Homo sapiens: one gene and its partner. The protein of the gene in region 2 purifies or fractionates together with the protein of the main gene of each other region. This does not show direct contact. Each region holds a gene or a part of one and is shown on either strand. Other genes may lie near its edges. The genes, in order: P4HA1 and RNPC3.

Evidence for each region.
Region 1: the proteins of RNPC3 (region 2) and P4HA1 purify together in Homo sapiens (affinity purification with mass spectrometry; one large-scale study listed by BioGRID and IntAct). This does not show direct contact.

What each region holds. Positions count from the first base shown.
Region 1 is NC_000010.11:73,006,571-73,010,048, forward strand, and holds the end of P4HA1 (prolyl 4-hydroxylase subunit alpha-1 isoform 2 precursor), read right to left. Parts: intron 3,334-3,478; coding exon 3,237-3,333; intron 1,723-3,236; coding exon 1,652-1,722; 3' UTR 647-1,651; downstream 1-646. UniProt on the Homo sapiens protein: Catalyzes the post-translational formation of 4-hydroxyproline in -Xaa-Pro-Gly- sequences in collagens and other proteins.
Region 2 is NC_000001.11:103,546,169-103,549,996, reverse strand, and holds part of RNPC3 (RNA-binding region-containing protein 3), read right to left. Parts: intron 3,750-3,828; coding exon 3,655-3,749; intron 3,021-3,654; coding exon 2,962-3,020; intron 1-2,961. UniProt on the Homo sapiens protein: Participates in pre-mRNA U12-dependent splicing, performed by the minor spliceosome which removes U12-type introns. U12-type introns comprises less than 1% of all non-coding sequences. Binds to the 3'-stem-loop of m(7)G-capped U12 snRNA.

The DNA of each region.
Region 1 (3,478 bases), on a different chromosome or scaffold from region 2:
CCGGGTCAAGTGAATAGCGAACCATTTTCAGATTACCTCAGGCCACTTAGGAAAGAGCATCATATTTCTTAATAGGAGAAAGTCTTAAGTACCACTATTGTAATAATTTTTTTCTTTTTTGAGACAGAGTCACTCTGTCACTCAAGCTAGAGTGCAGTGGTGCAATCTCAGCTCACTGCAACCTCTGCCTCCCAGGTTCAAGCGATTTTCCTGCCTCAGCCTCCCAAGTAGCTGGGACTACAGGCATGCACCACCACACCCGGCTAATTTTGGTAATTTTAGTAGGGATGGGGTTTCACCATGTTGGCCAGGCTGGTCTCGAACTCCTAGCCTCAGGTGATCCGCCTGCCTCGGCCTCCCAAAGTGCTGGGATTGAAGGCGTGAGCCACCATGCCTGGCCCATAATAACTTCATAACCACAGTAAAGTATTTTAGAGCTCTCTTTGAAGGAAGCACATCTTGATTCATGAAATATCTGAAACTTCAGAGAGCCTAAGTTTTTCTTAACCATGTGACATTAGTGTGAGTGGAAACCAAGAGTATAAACCTAAGCCCTATGTACTAAAGAAATTACATAAGTTAACCTGTTACTGCCACATCATACATTCGGATTTAAATACGAAAAACACCACACAGAAAACAAACATTTTTTTAAAAAAGATTTAAGATCATAAATAGGTCATTGTTGTCACAACACATTTCAGAATCTTAAAAAAACAAACATTTTGGCTTTCTAAGAAAAAGACTTTTAAAAAAAATCAATTCCCTCATCACTGAAAGGACTTGTACATTTTTAAACTTCCAGTCTCCTAAGGCACAGTATTTAATCAGAATGCCAATATTACCACCCTGCTGTAGCAGGAATAAGAGGCAAGGTATTAGCACTAAGAAAAACAGCAAAATTCCTGAACAAAATCATCTGTCATTTTAAAAAAGGGATAAAAAAACAGGCTAAGTGGTGAGCATTTTAGTTAAGAAGGCCCAGTGTTGTTATGCAGGACTTTCCATTAAAAAAAAAAAAAAAATCGAAATATTTTAACTCAAGTACGTTTAATTCACCACAGAGGAGCTAAAAGAAAAGAGAGGGGGTTGGTAAAATACAGTATACTTTCTTTAAAAAAGACTTGGGAGGAAAAAAATCAACTTAGAAGATCATATGAAAGGGCAATCACATGGAACCCAGTTAGTGTCCTAGTTTATTACTAGTCTTCAGATCCAGAAAACAGAGTAAGACACTAGGTAAACAGAACACCTAGGCACATCTGTAAGGCATTTGTTTCCTATCACACAGCCCATTCTAGCTTAACACCCACCAACTGAGATGTAGTGAAATACTAAAACTGGATGCTCAAATTATGTTTTTATCCAACCAAAAAGTTCTTTAAATATAAAATTCCTCACTTTAAACTCTGCCTTGTCTTCTGTGATACCAACAGAACTTTAAGGTTTTATGCAATATGATGATTTCGTGTTACTTTTAAAAGAACCCACAAAGTAAGCAATTGTCCACAGATGAAACATGGGATGAGGTTCATGACTGAATCAATCATGGAGTGTTAGTCAATTGTAAACTCCTGAAAGTTAAGACTAGGAAATGTGTATATCAGACACATAAGAGTACAACAATAGGAGAAAAAGGGAAGCCTGTTTGTCATTCCAATTCTGACAACGTACAAGGTCTTCGAAATTCTTGTCCACGTTCATGGAGCCATTTATTGGATACTGTGAGAGAAAAGTAATATATTAATTTTCCCCCTTAATCTAATCAGTATTTAATTAGTTTCTAAAAGCTAGGTCTATAACAAAGTTTCATCATGGGATAAAAGTTCAACACCAAAACCGGATAAAGGCAGATGCTACTTAAAAACTTGGCTAAATGCTGAAAACACAGATTTTATATACCTATATACATATGTGTACACACTTGTGTGCGTGTATGTACATACATGTATGTATACACATGTATATTTGCCAGTCTATGTGCATTTCTTACAGTTTCCAATGTTCAATGTGAGGCTTGAAATGAGACACAAATGGACCTAAGATACAGGTACAGGTAAGAGTAGAATATTGCTTTATGTATTGTTTTCAAAGTACAGCCTCCAAAATACAAAGACAATAATGAACACAAACTTTGCACTCTAAAGGAACAACTCTCTTATCAACCATTGCTATTGTATGCTCATCAAGTTTCCAAAATACCTTTAAAAAATGTATACCATGTAAAAATGTATCCCAAAAGCAGTTAATTTTCTATTTTTTTTTTGTCTCTGGTACCATAGAACCCAGTCAAAATATCTAAAGCAGGAACCTTAATTCTTAACTCTTTTTCCTTCTTCAACCCTTGTATCTACACTTTATTCATCAAACCCTGACAATTTTCCTTACATCTCTCTCAAATCTATTTGCTCTCCAACCCTTTCACTGATGCTTTAATCCAGGCCATTATCATCTCCCACTTAGACAACAGAAAACAGCTTTCTAAACTCTCTCTCACCAACTAGCCTCTCCTCATTCTAGTCCAGTGGTTCTTAAACACTATAATCATAAGGGGAGATTTTAAAATCCTGATCAGGCCTCACTCCTTAACCTTGTAATGTCCTGTATGTAACCACTCAACATGTGGCTAGTAACACAGATTGAAATGGATACATGGGGCTAATTAATAGATATTAAAACTAATTTTACCTGTTTCTTTTTACTTTTTAAAAATGTGGTCCTGCACTTGCATGTCCCTGACTGAGAGTGAGTGCCTCTTTAAATTTTGCACATTAGGTGCTACTCGAGCCTCACATTAGAACCTGGTATCTAACATGTTTGGAAAACTGCTGTTCTATCTTCAGGACCAAATTTAAAGAAAAAGCTTTGAAGAAGACTCCCCAAACTTAGGCAGTCACCATCTTCTGTTTACATTTTTGTATTAATATGTACTACATTATAATCCATTAGTATGTCTCAATCAGATTATTAACCCTTTGAGGGGAAGATATTGTCTTATTCAATTTTGAGTCAGTCATTGTTTCTTGGAATAAGTAAAAATAGTTAAAAATAAAATCTGTCATCAAAATTCTGATTTCAAATTTGTATTATGATTAGGCACTTGTTTGGCTGAATCCTGTACAATGTTAAAATCATATTAAGCAAACATGGGGGCTTTTGTTTTTAAGACACAGATAATAGTTCCAAAATAAGAAACAAAAATTACATTATCTTCGCAGAATATATGAAATATTTACCCCATTTGTTGCCAACTAGCACTGGACAGGCTGCATGCCGTGTACTATAATCTCCTTCTCCACTGGCAAACAGATTATACCAGAAAACAGCAGTTCCCTATGGAGAACAATTCACAATTATCCCCAAGTATACAATGCCAGGTAATTGCTTTCGGTAGTTATTACTTTTTTTTTTTTTTTGAGACAGAGTCTTGCTCTATCGCCCAGGCTGGAGTGCAATGGCACGATCTCAGCTCACTGCA
Region 2 (3,828 bases):
AGATGGGGTTTCACTATATAGGCCAGGCTGGTCTTGAACTCCTGACCTCAAGTGATCCCCCCCGCTTCGGCCTCCCAATGTGCTAGGATTACAGGCATGAACCACCACACCTGGCCTAGAGTTCATTATATTATTATAAGCAATTACAGAACTTCGGAGTAGAAAGGAACCTCAATGATTATCTAATTAAAACCATAATTTTACAGGTGATGTCCAGAGACAGTGAGTGACTCTTCAAAGCAGATAGCTAAGATCTAAAGTCAGAAACACAAACCAAATTTTTAAATTCCTAATATAGTGATCTACTATTCCATGTATCCATTTTTTGAAATTTTTGAGAGAAAATCATAGTCAAAAGCTACTTAGAAAAATCAGATTGTAATTTGCAACTGAAATATTACCTAATATTTAGTCTATGAGACTACCAAAGTAATACATAAAAAACTATCAAAAAATGCAGTAAAGTAATTTTTTTTTCCTTATAATCATGACTCAAAGATGGCAACAAAGAAAAAGACCTAGCATTTTGCATGGCCAGCAGAAAAAATATATTTTGGCATTCTGGTAAGAAGAGGTATTTGCCCCTAATGGATATAAATAGAGAATTGTGAAACACGGTTCCATTTGTGTATACCTATCTAAAAAAATACATAGGCCAGATAAGATTTGTAAAGTATTGGTGTCACTTGAAGATTAAAACAAAATTTAGTTATAGTCACTTCTTTATTTTATCTGCACTCAAAAGCCTCTTACCTTTTCTACTTCTTCTTACTTTTAATTTATATGACAGGGAGTCTTTCATACTTTGGAATTAACAAATACGGTATTGTAAAGAATGAAATTCTAACTCCAAACATTAGCTGATATGGTTTGGCTCTGTGTCCCCAAATCTCATTTGAATTGTAACTCCTACAATTCCCATGTGTCATGGGAGGAACGCTGTGAAAGGTGATTGAATTATAGGGGTGGGTCTTTCCTGTGTTCTCATGATAGTACATGAGTCTCACAAGGTTTGATGGTTTTAAAATAATGGCAGTTTGCCCGCACGAGCTCTCTCTTTTTGCCTGCTGCCAGCCATATAAAATGTGACTTGCTCCTCCTTGCCCTCCGCCACGATTGTGAGGCTTCCCTGGCCTCGTGGAACTTTGAGTTTTCCATTAAACCTCTTTCCTTTGTAAATTGCCCAGTCTCAGGTATGTATTTATCAGCAGAGTGAAAACAGACTAATACAGTAAATTGGTACCAGTAAAGTGGGATACTGCTGAAAAGATACCCAAAAATGTGGAAGCAACTTTGGAACTGGGTAACAGGCAGACGTTGGAACAGTTTGGAGGGCTCAGAAGAAGACAGGAAAATGTGGGAAAGTTTGGAACTCGCTAGACTTGTTGAATGGCTTTGACCAAAATGCTGATAATGATATGGACAATGAAATACAGGCTGAGGTGGTCTCAGATGGAGATGTGGAACTTGTTGGGAACTGGAGCAAAGGCGACTCTTGTTATGTTTTAGCAAACTCTTTGTTTTGGCAAAGAGACTGGTGGCATTTTGCCCCTGACCTAGAGATTTATGGAATTTTGAACTTGAGAGAGATGATTTAGGGTATCTGTCGGAAGAAATCTCTAAGCAGCAAAGCATTCAAGAGGTGACTTGGGTGCTGTTAAAGACATTCAGTTTTAAAAGGAAACACAGCATAAAAGTTCGGAAAATTTGCAGTCTGACAATGCAACAGAAAAGAAAGAGGAGAAATTCAAGCCAGCTGTAGAAATCTGCATAAGTAATGATGAGCCCAATGTTAATCCCCAAGAAAATGAGGAATATGTCTCCAGGGCATGTTAGAGGTCTCATGGCAGCCCCTCCCATCACCTGAGGACTAGGAAGAAAAAGTGATTTTGTGGGCCGGGCCCAGGGTCCCTGTGCTGTGTGCAGCCTAGGGACTTGGTGCTCTGTGTCCCAGCCACGGCAGCTGTGGCTGAAAAGGGCCAACAAAGAGCTTGGGTGGTGGCTTCAGAGGATGCAAACGTCAAGCCTTGGCAGCTCCCACATGGTGATAAGCCTGCCAGTGCACAGATGTCAAGAACTGGGGTTTGGGAGCCTCCACCTGGATTTCAGAGGATATATGGAAATGCCTGGATCCAGGCTTCCCTGGTGGAACTGTGAGTTTTCCATTTAACCTCTTTCCTTTGTAAATTGCCCATTCTCGGGTATGTCTATCAGCAGTGTGAAAACAGACTAACACATTAGCTTTTATAACATTTATAAATCACAACCCTCTCTTTTGCTTTTACAAAACTGGAAGCCTTGCTCAATGCAGTTCTTTTAAAAGATGACAATCTACTGTCAGAATAAGAATCTAAAAAGTTTTGACTCATTGCTTCATATTCCTGGATGATGCATTGAAAGAATGGTTTTCAAAGCATAGTCTTTGGATCAGAAGCTGCAGCATCATCCAGGAGCCTTTTAGAAACAAATTCATGAGTCCTACCCATGAAACCTAGAAAATCAGACTCTCTGCAGGTGGGCCCAGAAAACTGTTTTGCCAGGCTTTCCAGGTGATTCTTATGCAATGTTAAAGTCTGAGAACCATGTATTTAGAGGGAAGATTACGGTCGGAATCCATCACCGACCTGTTTCTGTAAAGAGTTTTATTAGAACACAGCCATGAATATTCATTCAGGTTTCATGGCTGCCTTCACAATACAACTACAAAACTGAGTAATTCCAACAGACACTGTATGGTCTGCAATAAAATAAAAATATTAAATTTTTACTATCTGCCCATTTACAGAAAAAGTTTGCCAACTCCTATTCTAGACATCTAAAAGATTAATTGTGCAACAGAATAGACGAACTTTTTCATATAATTTTTATCTCTAAAAGGAAAATGATGGGATTAAAATAGTGGTAAATTTGTAATAGATAAAAACAAAATATAATTGAAGATTGTATTTTACTGTCACTTACATGATCCGCTGTGTTTCTGATGAAAAGTCAACATATCTTCCAAAAATATATTTAAGGTCCTAGAATTTCAATAAGAAAAAGACAAATAACAAAGCCAGGGGAAAAAAACTTAATAAATAAATAAATACATCAATGCATCAGTAGAAGAGGTCATACTGGACTAAGGTAGGCTTTAATCTAATATGACTGGTGGCCTTTCAAAAGGGGAAATTTGGACAGATACTCACAAAGGGAGTATGCTATGTACAAAGGCAGAAATTGTGGTGATGCTTCCACAAGCCAAGGAAGGTGAAAGTTCGCCAGCTTCTGCATACCAGCAGAAGCTATGGGAGAGGCACAGAACAGATCCTTCACTCAAAGCCCTCAGAATGAACCAATCCTGCCACACTTTTGACTTCAGTTTGCCTCCAGAACTGTGAGACAACACATCTCTGTTGTTTCAGCCACTTAGCCCTAGGAAATTAATACATACCACAAACTCTGTCTCAGTATTTACTGCCAGAGAACCCAAGCTATGAGAGTATTATTTTAATAAAAAATTAACCTGAAAATACTAAACAATAATTTGTCATGCCCTGAAGCACAGTAAGAAAACCACATTCTTAAAGGTAGTTTCAAACAGACTTTAACACATCAACTATAAAACCTTCAAATTATTTTCATTTACATGAAAAAAAATCAATTTATACCTACCTTTTCTTGAACATGTTTAGCTAAATTCTTTACATAAATTCTACAGTTTGGTTCACCCGGTTCATAACTTCTGAAAACTGAAAGTGTTTCCATTTCTTATTAAAAAACAAAAAACAAAGATATAAAATTAAAATATTTTAAGCAAGTTTTTAAAGATAATTACAATTTTGAAAC